4 linked regions of the Homo sapiens genome follow. The protein of the gene in region 1 purifies or fractionates together with the protein of each later gene. This does not show direct contact. Each region holds a gene or a part of one and is shown in the gene's direction. Other genes may lie near its edges.

Region 1 (3,179 bases):
TCTCTCCCGACCCCCTCCTCTTCTCTGCATCTCTCTCTCTGCCTCCTCTCCTCTGCACCTCTCTCCCAACCCCCAGGTCCTCTCAGGCCTAGCTCAGATGATGCGGGAGTGCTGGTACCCAAACCCCTCTGCCCGACTCACCGCGCTGCGGATCAAGAAGACACTACAAAAAATTAGCAACAGTCCAGAGAAGCCTAAAGTGATTCAATAGCCCAGGAGCACCTGATTCCTTTCTGCCTGCAGGGGGCTGGGGGGGTGGGGGGCAGTGGATGGTGCCCTATCTGGGTAGAGGTAGTGTGAGTGTGGTGTGTGCTGGGGATGGGCAGCTGCGCCTGCCTGCTCGGCCCCCAGCCCACCCAGCCAAAAATACAGCTGGGCTGAAACCTGATCCCCTGCTGTCTGGCCTGCTCAAAGCGGCAGGCTCCCTGACGCCTGGCTCTCTCCCCACCCCTATGGCCAGCATGGTGCACCCCCTACCACTCCCGGGACAGGATGCAAAAGAGGCTCCAGAGTCAGAGTGCCAAGCCAGGGAATCCCAGTCCCAGACTCAGAGCCCGGGCCTGCACTTTGCCCCCTGCCCTTGATCAACCCCACTGCCCCACCAGAGCTGCCAGGGTGGCACAGGGCCCTGTCCAGCCCCTGGCACACACTTCCCTGCCAGGCCTCAGCCTCTAGCATAAGCTCCAGAGAGCCAGGGCCCATCAGTTTCTCTCTGTGGATTTGTATCTCAGCTCCATGATGCCTTGGGCTTTCTGTCTCCTCAACAAGAGTGCAGCTTGCTGAATGTCAGCTGCCTGAGAGAGCTGGGGCCTGACTTACTAGGGCATTAAATCCTAAGAGGTCCTACTGAGGTGTGGCAGGATCACAGGCCAGTGGAAAAAGGGCAGGTCAGATGGGCAAGGCCCAGGACTTTCAGATTAACTGAGAGGATATCGAGGCCAAGCATGGCAGGGGGAAGGTCAGTGGGTGTCAAGAGACCCAGGTCTGACCCCGGATGTTTGCTCCATGTGACAAAAGCAGGCCTGTCTCAGGACCTTTTCTTTTCTTTTTTCCTTCTTTTTTTTTTTGACACGGAGTTTCGCTCTTGTTGTCCAGGCTAGAGTGCAATGGCATGATCCCAGCTCACCGCAACGTCTACCTCCCAGGTTCAAATCATTCTCTTGCCTCAGACTCCCGAGTAGCTGGGATTACAGGCACATGCCACCATGCCTGGCTAATTTTGTATATTTAGTAGAAACAGGGTTTCACCATGCTGGCCATGCTGGTCTCGAACTCCTGACCTCAGGTGTTCCACCTACCTCAGCCTCCCAAAGTGCTGGGGTTACAGGTGTGAGCCATCGCGCCTGGCCAGGACCTTTGTTTCTTATCTACATATTGGAAGATTTGGTCCTGATGTCCTTTGAGGCTTCTTTAGCTCTAGTTCTCTGACACTTCAGCCTATATCACAGCTAACTTCTTCAGTCTCATCTATTCCTTATGCTCCAGCCCCTGGCAATTTGCCTCAAGATGGGGGTTTGAAAATAACTTTACCTGACTCAAGGAGTGTCTGGAGCACCTCCTAGTCTAAGTCTGCAAGCTCCAGTTCTTGCCTAAAACCATGCCAGTGGCCACCCTTGGGCTCAGACAGCTCTGGGCCTTTTGACCACAAGCCAGCCCCTCGCCCTCTCTGTGGCATAGTCTTCTCTGCCCCAGGACTGCAGGGCGGCTTCCTCCAAGGCTTCCAAGGCTCAAAAGAAATTTGGCTCCATCCAAGAAGGCTCCAGCTCCCCTACTGGCCCCTGGCTCAGGCCCACACCCCTGGCCAGGCCCAGAGAGTGTGTCTCAGGAGAATTCAATGGCTCTAGAGAGACACACAGAAAGTTTGGCATTTGGAAATTTCAAGGATGTATGTATGCTCACGTATGGAGCAGGTTGTCCTGGTCCCTGGGTGCAGGGAAGTGGGCTGCAGGGAAGTGGATTGGAGGGGAGCTTGAGGAATATAAGGAGCGGGGGTGGAGACTCAGGCTATGGACAAGGACAGCCCCAAGGTTGGGAAGACCTGGCCTTAGTCGTCCTCAGCCTAGGGGCAGGGCAGTGAAGAAAGCTCTCCCCGCTCCTGCTGTAATGACCCAGAGTAGCCTCCCCAGGCCGGCATCTTATGTGTGTCTTCCACCATCCTCATGGTGGCACTTTTCTAGGCCTGTCTCCCAGCATTGTGCAAGGCTCGGAAGAGAACCAGGAAGTGAAACTGGGTGAAAACAGAAAGCTCAATGGATGGGCTAGGTTCCCAGATCATTAGGGCAGAGTTTGCACGTCCTCTGGTCACTGGAATCCACCCAGCCCACGAATCATCTCCCTCTTGAAGGATTTTATTTCTACTGGGTTTTGGAACAAACTCCTGCTGAGACCCCACAGCCAGAAACTGAAAGCAGCAGCTCCCCAAAGCCTGGAAAATCCCTAAGAGAAGGCCTGGGGCAGGAAGTGGAGTGACAGGGGACAGGTAGAGAGAAGGGGGCCCAATGGCCAGGGAGTGAAGGAGGTGGCGTTGCTGAGAGCAGTCTGCACATGCTTCTGTCTGAGTGCAGGAAGGTGTTCCAGGGTCGAAATTACACTTCTCGTACCTGGAGACGCTGTTTGTGGGAGCACTGGGCTCATGCCTGGCACACAATAGGTCTGCAATAAACCATGGTTAAATCCTGAGCTCCGGAGTCTTCCCAGGCCGATGCCTCTGCAGTGGCCCGTCGCAGAGGTCCAGATAAAACCAGAGGGATCCGGGGAGAAGAGGGTCCCAGGATACACGCCCAGCTTTGCCCTTAGACAGGTCACAGTTTCCTCACGCCCCTGCTCAGACCCCCGCGGGGGCCCAAATCTCAGTTCCTACCCCAGATTGGGAGCAGCCTAGTCGCCGCACCTGCCACGTCGCCCTCTGCTGGCCGAGGGCTGCCCAGCGGCCGCCTCCCATCCCCACACAGGGACCGCGGGGCCTTTCCCGGCAGGGTGGGGCAGCCTTCCCCGCACCCGGGGGCCAACGTCTGTGTGCTCACTGACTTGCTGTTCTGCAGGGACTGTCCCCCTAATACCACACCTAGCGAAGAGCGTTCTGCTTCCGAACCGGCAGCTTGGACCCTCCCTCCTCAATTCCTTGTTCTCACTTCCCTTCTCAAATGGGGTCCCCATCTTGCCAGGAGTCAGTCCCCATT
Region 2 (3,500 bases), on another chromosome or scaffold:
GGGACCCAAGATCACTGAACTTTTGCCTATTTTGAGATCATCTTTCCAATCCAGCCACTAACAGCTGAAGGATAGGCTTGCCCTGGAGCCATTGTAGTGGTTGGATGAAGATAAAAGATAAAAAACTGTGAGGGGAGGTGTCACAGAAGAAAGGGCCCATGTGGGCAGATTTTCATTCAATTCCTAGTCTTTATTACAGCAATTCTCCAGTGCTGCAACCTTAGAAAAGGATTCCTACAACACAATGTAGGTACCCATCAGCAGCAGATTGGATAAAGAAAATGTGGTACATACACACCATGGAATACTATGCAGCCATAAAAAAGGAGCAAAATCATGTCCTTTGCAGCAATATGAATGCAGCTGGAAGCCAATAACTTAAACGAATTATTGTAGAAACAGAAAAACAAATACTGTGTTCTCATTTACAGGGGGAGCTAAACCTTGGGTAAATGGGGCATAAAGATGGGAACAATAGACACTAGGGACTCCAAAAGGGGGGAGGGAGGGAGGAGGGCAAGGGCTGGAAAGCTTCCTACTGGGTACTTTGTTCACAACCTGGGTGATGGCACGATTAGGAGCTCAAACCCCAGTATCACACAGTATACCCTTGTAACAAGCTGATGGTGTAACCCCTGAATCTACAATAAAATTATTTTATTTTAAAAAATCATTATAAGGATTTTTAAAAAGAAGGATTCCTAGACAGGTGCAGCCAAACAATTTTTTTTAAATGTTGGCAGGCCGCCACCGCCAGTCACTTATGCTGCAATAGCCCATGTCCCAACATTCCCAACCTACTTCTCTCCAAAAGAGAAGCTATACTTTCAGATGGCCCTGTGCTGGGTTCTCCCTGGAAGTTTCTGGGGAAAGGGGCTTGAGTTGCCCCGACTGGACTCTTCCTGGAGTGGGAGCCGGGGCTTCTGATCAGACGTGAGTGAGGCAGGAACTCCGCGGTCTCCCAGCGCAGCCCAGAGTGCGGTCCCACGCAGGTCCCGGGTCCTGCGCGCTCGCGCCTTTGCGCTGAAGCCGTTAGGATGAGCCCTCTCCTTCCAGAGCTTTAACCGATGAAGGTGCATTGTGTTTGGCGCCCCTGAGGAGGATGCTGTCTTAGGCCTCTTCCCACTGGACGTGTGTGGTGGGCAGAGATCCCGTTCGTCGGTCGCACTTCCACCCCGCTGGGGCTCACTCAGGCCGCGGAGCTGCGAGGGAGACATCCTCGATGGACTCCCTCTACGGAGATCTCTTTTGGTACCTGGACTATAACAAGGATGGGACCTTGGACATTTTTGAGCTTCAGGAAGGCCTGGAGGATGTAGGGGCCATTCAATCTCTAGAGGAAGCGAAGGTGGGTCTCACTGGGGCTGTAATCAGAGAGACGTTGGGGCTGGGAGCCCTGGAGAGGCATTGGGCAGAGAGGGCAAAATTTACATGTTGTCAAGCTTGACCTGGGCCCACTGCAGTGTTCAGGTCGTTGACCAGCGTTACCGTTTATTAAGAATAACAACACAGCTAACACATTTCTCAAGTATTTTTCTCCGTTTTCTCCTTGGCTGTAGTAAAATCTCCAACTTCAGATTGCTCTCAAGATGTTGGCTACATACAGCCTTGTCTTAGGAGTCACCTTGTTCAATGTGCTCACCTGTCATTAGTCACCCAGAGGGGCGTCTAGGCTAAAGATGCGCCCTCCCCAGTTCAGAGAACTGGAATAATCACTCTACGTGTATTTGGGAGTGGGGTGGTGATTGGAAATTTTCTGATGTTATGTTTCGGTTTCTGTTCCTGGAAGGGGGCAGTGGAAGTGGCTTTTACTCTCGGGTTTCACTAGTGCTGAGGTTTCCTCATAATATGCCTTAATTGATAGACCCTAGTTATCAGTACCGAGCTTAGGCTAACCCTTCTCTTCCCCAGAAGGCTAACCTACAGGCTCCTTCTCAGCATGTTGTGCTTCGTACATACTCCTATTGCAGTATTTCCAAGTCATTTTTCATTTGGAATTTATTATTGTATATAATAATTACTTTATAAGTATATTTGCTCTTTGGATGTTTGACCCGGTAGACTGGGAGATCATGAGCATGTGGACTATTGAGTTTATTTTGGATAATTGGTACTTCGTGCCCAAAAAACTGTCAGTTGAGTTCTGTCATGTTGAAATTTAGTAAAACTCTTTCTATTAGCCATGTGAACTTTGGGAATATTGAAGCATCCATTCAGTCATGGGTCAGTTCTAGTTTGAGCACATTCTATATTCCAAGCCCCATACCCTGGTATCCTCATCTGTTATATCAGAGGCCTGGACTGTGTACTTTCTGTGGACCAATTCAGTCCAAAATGTTATTTCTGCAAAGCTTATCTGGATTTTTAATTCCTAGAAAAAAGCAGTGTTTCTCCTTTTAAAGTTAAGTGTTCTTGTTCAGGTGCAGTGGCTCATGCCTGTAATTCCAGCACTTTGGGAGGCCAAGGCAGGTGGATCACTTGGGGTCAGGAGTTCAAGACCAGCCTGGCCAATATGGTAAAACCCCATCTCTACTAAAAATGCAAAAATTAACCGGGTGTGGTGGTGGGTGTGTGTAGTCCCAGGAGGCTGAGGCAGGAGAATCACTTGAGCCTGGGAGGCAGAGGTTGCAGCAAGCTGAGATTGCATCACTGCACTCCAACCTGGGTGACAGAGTGAGACTCCATCTCAAAAAGAAAAAAAAAAAGTTAAGTGTTCTTCATATTTGTTTAAAGACACTCTTATATTTAGATTTGCAAGTGTAAGTTGTATTTGTTTATTTGATACAAACTAGCCTTTCATAAGAAATTCTGGGTTAGCTATCAAGTCGAATCTTTTGAAACACATTTCTTCCTTATTGAAACAAAAGGTTTGTAGAGCTGTCTTGCATTTTTGGCAAGGACGCTTTGTGTACCTAGTGGTGACTGAGGAGGGTTCACATGTCAAAACCCAAGGGAGGGGTGTCCCCAGAGAATTCTGCACCAACCACACAGAACATTCTGTTTCAGAGGAGCACCATTGTGACTTTTCCTCAAGTGGCAGTCACATCGTTAGGAGGTTTTGATGTGAGGTCTCTTCCCACACGTCTCCACCTCCCCAGTAGGAAAATTTGTTTATATAGACAAAACTCAACTGATTAAAAAAAAAAAAAAGAAATGATACTTACATTGTCGTGTTAAGATACAAAAGCAATAACTTTTTATTGTGAAAATAGTCTGTTTTTGAACAATATATTGTTTTGTTTTTTCCTGTGAAAGTTGAGAAACTAAATATACGAAGAGATAATGGTCAGACCATAAATAAAAATAGAACTTTGACTCAAAATTTACAGCAGTCTGCCCAGAAAACCAGCCCTTTATCTAAAATAAACAGACCAGGAAACCAGCCTGTTATGTCAGACTTATAGGAAGTCAGGTTGCTATCTCTAGAGACAATACACAAAGCTATGCAATAACTGCTGTAACAGCCCCAAATGGTCAGAATTTGATTAATAACCGACAGC
Region 3 (3,150 bases), on another chromosome or scaffold:
CCATGCTCTTCATAGTCACGGCCCTTCTCTGCTGTGGTGAGTACAAGTGGGGGAAGGGGCCCCGGGCAGAAGGCCGGGGTGAAGTCCCGGTGGGGGAGGGGGCCGAGTCCTGGCAGCAATTTCTTTTGCAGGACTGTGCAATGGGGTATTGATAGAAGAGACTGGTGAGTTTTTCCTGCTCCAGACTGGGACATTCCTCCCTGGAGATCCGAAATAACTACAGAGCGTCAGTGTCATTGGCCAGGGAGTGGCTGGTTGGGAGGGAAGGGCAGCCAGGAAGGGGCACTTGCTAAAGCTGCTGGCAAAATTCAGCCTCCAACTTTGCCTTTCTGCCTGCAAAATTTCCTCCAAGCTTCTGCACTTTTCTGAGGCTCAGCTATAAGACACCAGCTTCCCCTTTCCCCAGCACCTGAGGAAGGAAGGAAAGAAGGAAAGGGTTTGGATTTGGGTTGCAAGGGGAGGTGGGCAGTGTGATCTGGGTAGAGGGTTCAAGGGCAAGGAGGAGGGAGGGGAAGGGAGGCGGGAGGATGGCTTCATTAATTCTGCTGTTTCTAGAAATAGTCATGCCAACCCCTAAGCCTGAGCTGTGGGCAGAGACCAACTTTCCTCTGGCCCCGTGGAAGAACTTAACCCTCTGGTGCAGAAGCCCTTCTGGCTCAACTAAGGAGTTTGTGTTGCTGAAGGATGGGACCGGGTGGATCGCCACTCGCCCGGCCTCAGAGCAGGTCCGGGCTGCCTTCCCCCTTGGCGCCCTGACCCAGAGCCACACCGGGAGCTACCACTGCCATTCATGGGAGGAGATGGCTGTATCGGAGCCCAGTGAGGCACTTGAGCTGGTGGGGACAGGTAAGAAAATGTAGAGGGTCTCCGGGAGTTATCCCCAGTGCCCCTGGGACTCCAACACTGCTCCTGGGAGTGAGGGAATGAACTCACAGGGACCCTGGAGCCCAAGGGGCTCGTGCTGCATGTAGGAGAGGAGGGGCACTGAAATGGTAGGGGGTTATGGGGTAGGGGGAGGGGCGGAATGGGAAAGAGAGTGTGAGGAGACTGACTGGAAGAGCCTAGGGCCAGCCCAGAATGAATGTCTTTATTTGCTGACAAAGTGACCCTGAGTATCCCATCTGGGCAACTGCAAACTTCTGACTCCTTTTTCACCCCATTCTGTTTTCCAGACATCCTCCCCAAACCTGTCATTTCTGCTTCCCCCACAATCCGGGGCCAGGAACTACAACTCCGGTGCAAAGGATGGCTGGCAGGCATGGGGTTTGCTCTGTATAAGGAGGGAGAGCAAGAACCTGTCCAGCAACTTGGTGCTGTTGGAAGAGAAGCCTTCTTTACAATCCAGAGAATGGAGGATAAAGACGAAGGCAATTACAGCTGCCGCACTCACACTGAAAAACGCCCCTTCAAGTGGTCTGAGCCCAGTGAGCCGCTGGAGCTTGTCATAAAAGGTAGAGCTGAAAAGGGTGTGGGAGGAAAGGGGGCAGGGTGGAGGGAAAGGCAAAGCCCTGGGTCAGACACTCCTCTCCCTGCAGCAAACTTTGCTGCTGGTCCTGAGAGCCTGTGTCCAATCTTAGAGCCAGGCAGGCGTGGCGCTGGGAGTGCCAGGGCCTCTGGCTGCACGATATTAATAGCCATAATCGTTATTAATAGCTTTGGTTCGTGGAGGGTGATTTAATTTTTCTAATTATTTTCACATCAATTATCTCACTTCACCATAGAGCAACTCTTCAAGGTGGGTGAAGCAGGTACCATTTTCCCCTTGTCCAAATGGGCAAACTGAGGCTCAGAGAATCAGCAGAACCCCAAGAAAAATTCTACCTTTTTACTAGCCTCCATTGCCTGCCCTGATCACACTGAGGACTCATCTGGAGGTAGTGAGGGGTGGGGTTGAAGGGTCCCTGTGTGAGAAGTCCATCTGCAAAGTGGATTTACCTTACTTTTTAAATGCACTTACTTAAAAGCAAAGAAGCCTCCGAGAACCAATATTTGCTATATTTGCTTTCTCTCTTTCTTGTTCTTAATTTGGTTTTGTGTTGTATTTTGTTTTTTGTTTTTGTTTTTGTTTTTTGCCTTCTAGAAATGTACCCTAAGCCCTTCTTCAAGACATGGGCCAGCCCTGTGGTCACCCCTGGTGCCCGAGTGACTTTCAATTGCTCCACCCCCCACCAGCATATGAGCTTTATTCTTTACAAAGATGGAAGTGAAATAGCATCCAGTGACAGGTCCTGGGCAAGTCCGGGGGCCAGTGCAGCTCACTTTCTAATCATTTCGGTGGGCATTGGTGATGGAGGGAATTACAGCTGCCGATATTATGACTTTTCTATCTGGTCTGAGCCCAGCGACCCTGTGGAGCTCGTGGTGACAGGTTAGGAGGGGGGACTCCAGGTAGAGGTGGTGCCAACCCTGGGATGGTGGGTGGAAGGCTGTCAGTGGGAGAGGAAGAAATGTTTCTTCTAAAACACACTGAGAACGTGCTTAGGACAGCGGCTGGCCCATAGTGACCAGTCCATGATGCACAGCTGCTCATGTTATTATTACAGGAACAAGAAACAAAGGCAGTGGGGAGGCAAGCAATTCACTTCTGGGGAAATAAATGAGGTAGATGGGGGTGTCTAATCCCAAGAGCTCGGTTCAACTTGCCCTATTTCTGCACATTTTTATGGCTTGGCATTGAGCTTTAGGCTCAATGTCCACTTTTTCTCTAGCTGGGCTGTCAGAGACCGGTGGGCTGGATGGCTCTCAGAGAAAGGGAGAAGACCTTGAAATGTCAGCTGCATACTACACAACTACACAACTGTGCATAAGTGGAGTCCCAATTATGTAAACAGTTATAGCTACATGGACATGGGAATATATGGAAAGAATAAATGGCAATTAAATATTAAAAATATTTATCTTTGAGTGGTAGAATTGTGTTTCCTTCATTAGTTTTTTTTTCTATATTTTCTAATTTTTAACAACAAACATATATTGTGTCTTACAATAACACTTTAAAAGGCTATTTGCAGGATGTGAGGGCTGGGTTTATCTCATGCTGTGGTCTCTTTAATTTCAGAATTCTACCCCAAACCCACTCTCCTGGCACAGCCAGGTCCTGTGGTGTTTCCTGGGAAGAGTGTGATCCTGCGCTGCCAAGGGACTTTCCAG
Region 4 (3,500 bases), 2.5 Mb from region 1:
CAGGCCCTTAGCTATGACCACCCCATTACACAGGGCAAACTTCCCCTCATATCAGGGGGAACAGAAGCACTGTGTCCAGAACTGGGACCCCGGTAGAGCAGACTCTGAATTCAGTCAGCTGGGGGTGGTCTATGGGAAAGGGGTTCAAGGGCTGAAACACAGACCCAGCCAGGAAGGGGAGGCCCACACCAGGGCCGGGGTGAGGGCAGGCCCAGGCCCAGTGGAACAATCTGTTTTCACTGTCCTCCAGCTCCTCTCTCCACTCCTGCTGCCTGATTTCCAAGACTCACATTTTCCTCCTACACGCCCCAAGGCTGGGTGGCTGGGCAGCCGGATGCCTGGGTCTTGGCCCAGGGAGGGGATTTGGCTTGGGAGGAGAGTATATAGGCTAGATGAGAGACCCTGAGGCTCCACAGGACCTTGGCGCTCCAGAAGCTATACATCTAATCTCAGCAGGTACGTAGAGGAGAGGGAGAAGCCAGGGGTACAGGCTCTGGCCCCTCTTCCCCTTCTAGAAATTGACTGTGGTTCCTCCTCTCTTTATGAACAGGATAAGGTAGGAGAGGACAGAGAATGGCGGGAGGAGGGGAGGGTTGTGTTAGTGACAGCGGCACATGGGGACCGCCTGACTCCAGCCTGTGCCTCTGGCATCTGTGGCATCTTCTGAGATATAAATACAACGCAGGGGGCATCTACTCCACCCCCAGCCAGCCCCAGCCTAGAGGCCTGGGTCCTTCCTGCCTCCAGACACCAATGAAAAGCTAGGAGCCATCCTCAACTGCCTCGCTTTTCCCCCCCACAGGGTCAGTGTGCTGGTGGGAGCACCCAAGGCTAATACCAGCCAGCCAGGAGTGCTGCAGGGTGGTGCTGTCTACCTCTGTCCTTGGGGTGCCAGCCCCACACAGTGCACCCCCATTGAATTTGACAGCAAAGGTAGGCCAGTGAAATTCAGGGAGGGACTGGGGGGTGGGACTGCAGCCTGGGGGCAAGGCCTGGGTGGGGCCTGGGGCGAGGGGTGGAGCCTGCTGGAACCCCGGCCACGTGACCTCTCAGCACCAGCTCTGGTGCTCCAACTGCTTACAGTGGATCCCCATGGCACTCACTCCACTCTCCCATCCAGCCCAGCCCAAGGAGGACGGGCATGATTCAGAAACATGTGGCTCTCATTTCCCCTGAATCACCCACAATTCTGGGAGGCCAGGGCCGTAACACAGACAAAGACAGGGAATGTTGCACAAACTATTCAGTTCCTTTAACTAAGTACTGACTAAGTGACAGTGCATGACAGGCACTGTGCTGGTGCTGCAGGGACTGAAAGATGACTAAGCCACTGCCCTCAAGGAGCTCAAGGTCTGAGTAGACACAGATGGATGGGAGGAAGATGGAGACTAACAGCTATCAGTTGCTCTGTGCCAGGCCCAGTTGTGAACACTTTACATATATTAGTTCACTTAATCTTTTCAACAACTGTATAAGGTATTATTATCCCCATTTTCTAAGTGAGGAGACAGAGGGTAAGTAGCTTATCCAAGGTTATACAGCTAGCAAACATTGGAGAGAGGATATGAACTAGGGCCATCTGTCTCCAGAAATAAAAACTGGACAGGCTGGGCACGGTGGCATGTGCCTGTAATCCCAGCACTTTGGGAGGCCGAGGCAGGAGGATCACTTGGTCCCAGGAGTTCAAGACCATCCTGGCCAACATAGTGAGACCCTGTCTCTACCAAAAACATTAGACAGAGCTGGGTGTGGTGGCTCATGCTTGTAATCCCAGCACTTTGGGAGGCCAAGGCAGGTGGATCACCTGAGGCCAGGAGTTTGAGACCAGACTGGCCATCATGGCAAAACCCCGTCTCTACTGAAAATACAAAAATTAGCCGGGCATGGTGGCACTTGCCTGTAATCCCAGCTACTTGGGAAGCTGAGGCACAAGAATTGCTTGAACTCAGGAGGCAGAGATTGCAGTGAGCTGAAATCATGTCACTGCACTCCAGCGTGGGCTACAGAGAAAGACTCTGTCTCAAGAAAAAAAAAAAAAAAATTAGCCAGGCATAGTGGTGAGCACTTGTAGTCCCAGCTACTCGGGAGGTTGAGGTGGGAGAATCACTTGAGTGATTCTCCGTCACTGCAGCCAAGGCTGCAATGAGTGCTACTTGCCCCACTGCCCTGTAGCCTGAGTGACAGAGCAAGACCCTGTTTAAAAAAAAAAAAAAATTAAAATAAACCTGGTCAACATGGCAAAACCCCATCTGTACAAAAAACACAAAAATTAGTTGGGTATAGTTTCCACCCACTTGGGGGGCTGATGTGGGAGGATCACTTGCACCCAGGAGGTCAAGGTTGCAGTGAGCCATAATCACGCCACTGCACTCCAGCCTGGGCAACAGAGTGAGACCCTATCTCAAAAAAAAAAAAAAAAGGAGGTGGAACAAGATGGTGTTAGAGACACAGTCCAAGTATAGACAAAGAAGTGCAGCCAAAGGGTTACTCTCTTGGGAAATAGCCACTGTTCCCCACCATCCTCCTGCCCCTGCTCCACAGCAGGCATCCTTGTCTCAGTTGGGTGAGAAAGCAGGAACCTTGGGGAGGCAACTCTAGAAAGCCCAGGTTCTACGCGGGCGCAGTGGCTCACGCTTGTAATCCCAGCACTTTGGGAGGCTGAGGCGGGCAGGTCATGAGGTCAGGAGTTCGAGATCAGCCTGACCAACATGATGAAACCCCGTCTCTACTAAAAATACAAAAATTAGCCAGGTGTGGTGACGCGCACCTGTAATCCCAGCTACTGAGGAGGCTGAGGCAGGAGAATCCCTTGAACCAGGGAGGCGGAGGTTGCACTGAGCCGAGATCATGCTACTGCACTCCAGCCTGGGTGACAGAGTGAGACTCCATCTCAAAAAAAAAAGAAAGCCCAGGTTCTGTGTGCGTGTGCGTGCGTGTGTATGTATGTGTGTGTGTGTATGTGTATGTGTGTAGTGGAGAGATAAGTCAGGCTACACAAACAGACTACACAAAGCAGAATTAAGCTCCTTACCAATTCCACACTCCCAGCGAGTCATGGAGTCTCAGGGCTTGGAAGCGTTTGTTGGGTATCCCCAGGCTGAGGGTAGGGGCTGCCCTAGAGCTCAAATGTCCATGGCTCAGTAAGACTCCCCCTTCTCACTTCCACAAGGCTCTCGGCTCCTGGAGTCCTCACTGTCCAGCTCAGAGGGAGAGGAGCCTGTGGAGTACAAGTCCTTGCAGTGGTTCGGGGCAACAGTTCGAGCCCATGGCTCCTCCATCTTGGTGAGGGGCCAGCAAGCTCAGTGGTGTGGTGGCCAGGGGATGGGCAGTGGTTGGGTAAGGCCGGGCCTGGAGGGAGGGAGGAAGGGCCTTATTGGACTGAATCTGAAGGCCCCTCCTCCTGGGCCCTCCCAGGCATGCGCTCCACTGTACAGCTGGCGCACAGAGAAGGAGCCACTGAGCGACCCCGTGGGCACCTGCTACCTCTCCACAGATAACTT

Evidence for each region. The genes of interacting proteins can lie anywhere in the genome.
Region 2: the proteins of ACVRL1 (region 1) and SLC25A24 purify together in Homo sapiens (affinity purification with mass spectrometry; one large-scale study listed by BioGRID and IntAct). This does not show direct contact.
Region 3: the proteins of ACVRL1 (region 1) and IGSF1 purify together in Homo sapiens (affinity purification with western blotting, with the first as the bait; one study listed by BioGRID). This does not show direct contact.
Region 4: the proteins of ACVRL1 (region 1) and ITGA5 purify together in Homo sapiens (co-immunoprecipitation; one study listed by IntAct). This does not show direct contact.

Annotation. Positions count from the first base shown.
Region 1 is NC_000012.12:51,920,683-51,923,861, forward strand, and holds the end of ACVRL1 (activin receptor type-1-like isoform 1 precursor), read left to right. Parts: intron 1-76; coding exon 77-211; 3' UTR 212-2,679; downstream 2,680-3,179. UniProt on the Homo sapiens protein: Type I receptor for TGF-beta family ligands BMP9/GDF2 and BMP10 and important regulator of normal blood vessel development. On ligand binding, forms a receptor complex consisting of two type II and two type I transmembrane serine/threonine kinases.
Region 2 is NC_000001.11:108,190,344-108,193,843, reverse strand, and holds part of SLC25A24 (mitochondrial adenyl nucleotide antiporter SLC25A24), read left to right. Parts: intron 1-1,008; exon of another isoform or gene 1,009-1,222; coding exon of another isoform or gene 1,223-1,348; intron 1,349-3,500. UniProt on the Homo sapiens protein: Electroneutral antiporter that mediates the transport of adenyl nucleotides through the inner mitochondrial membrane. Originally identified as an ATP-magnesium/inorganic phosphate antiporter, it also acts as a broad specificity adenyl nucleotide antiporter.
Region 3 is NC_000023.11:131,276,157-131,279,306, reverse strand, and holds part of IGSF1 (immunoglobulin superfamily member 1 isoform 1 precursor), read left to right. Parts: coding exon 1-36; intron 37-116; coding exon of another isoform or gene 117-131; coding exon 132-164; intron 165-555; coding exon 556-846; intron 847-1,172; coding exon 1,173-1,451; intron 1,452-2,080; coding exon 2,081-2,368; intron 2,369-3,058; coding exon 3,059-3,150. UniProt on the Homo sapiens protein: Seems to be a coreceptor in inhibin signaling, but seems not to be a high-affinity inhibin receptor. Antagonizes activin A signaling in the presence or absence of inhibin B.
Region 4 is NC_000012.12:54,409,267-54,412,766, reverse strand, and holds part of ITGA5 (integrin alpha-5 precursor), read left to right. Parts: intron 1-802; coding exon 803-933; intron 934-3,031; exon of another isoform or gene 3,032-3,169; coding exon 3,170-3,282; intron 3,283-3,414; coding exon 3,415-3,500.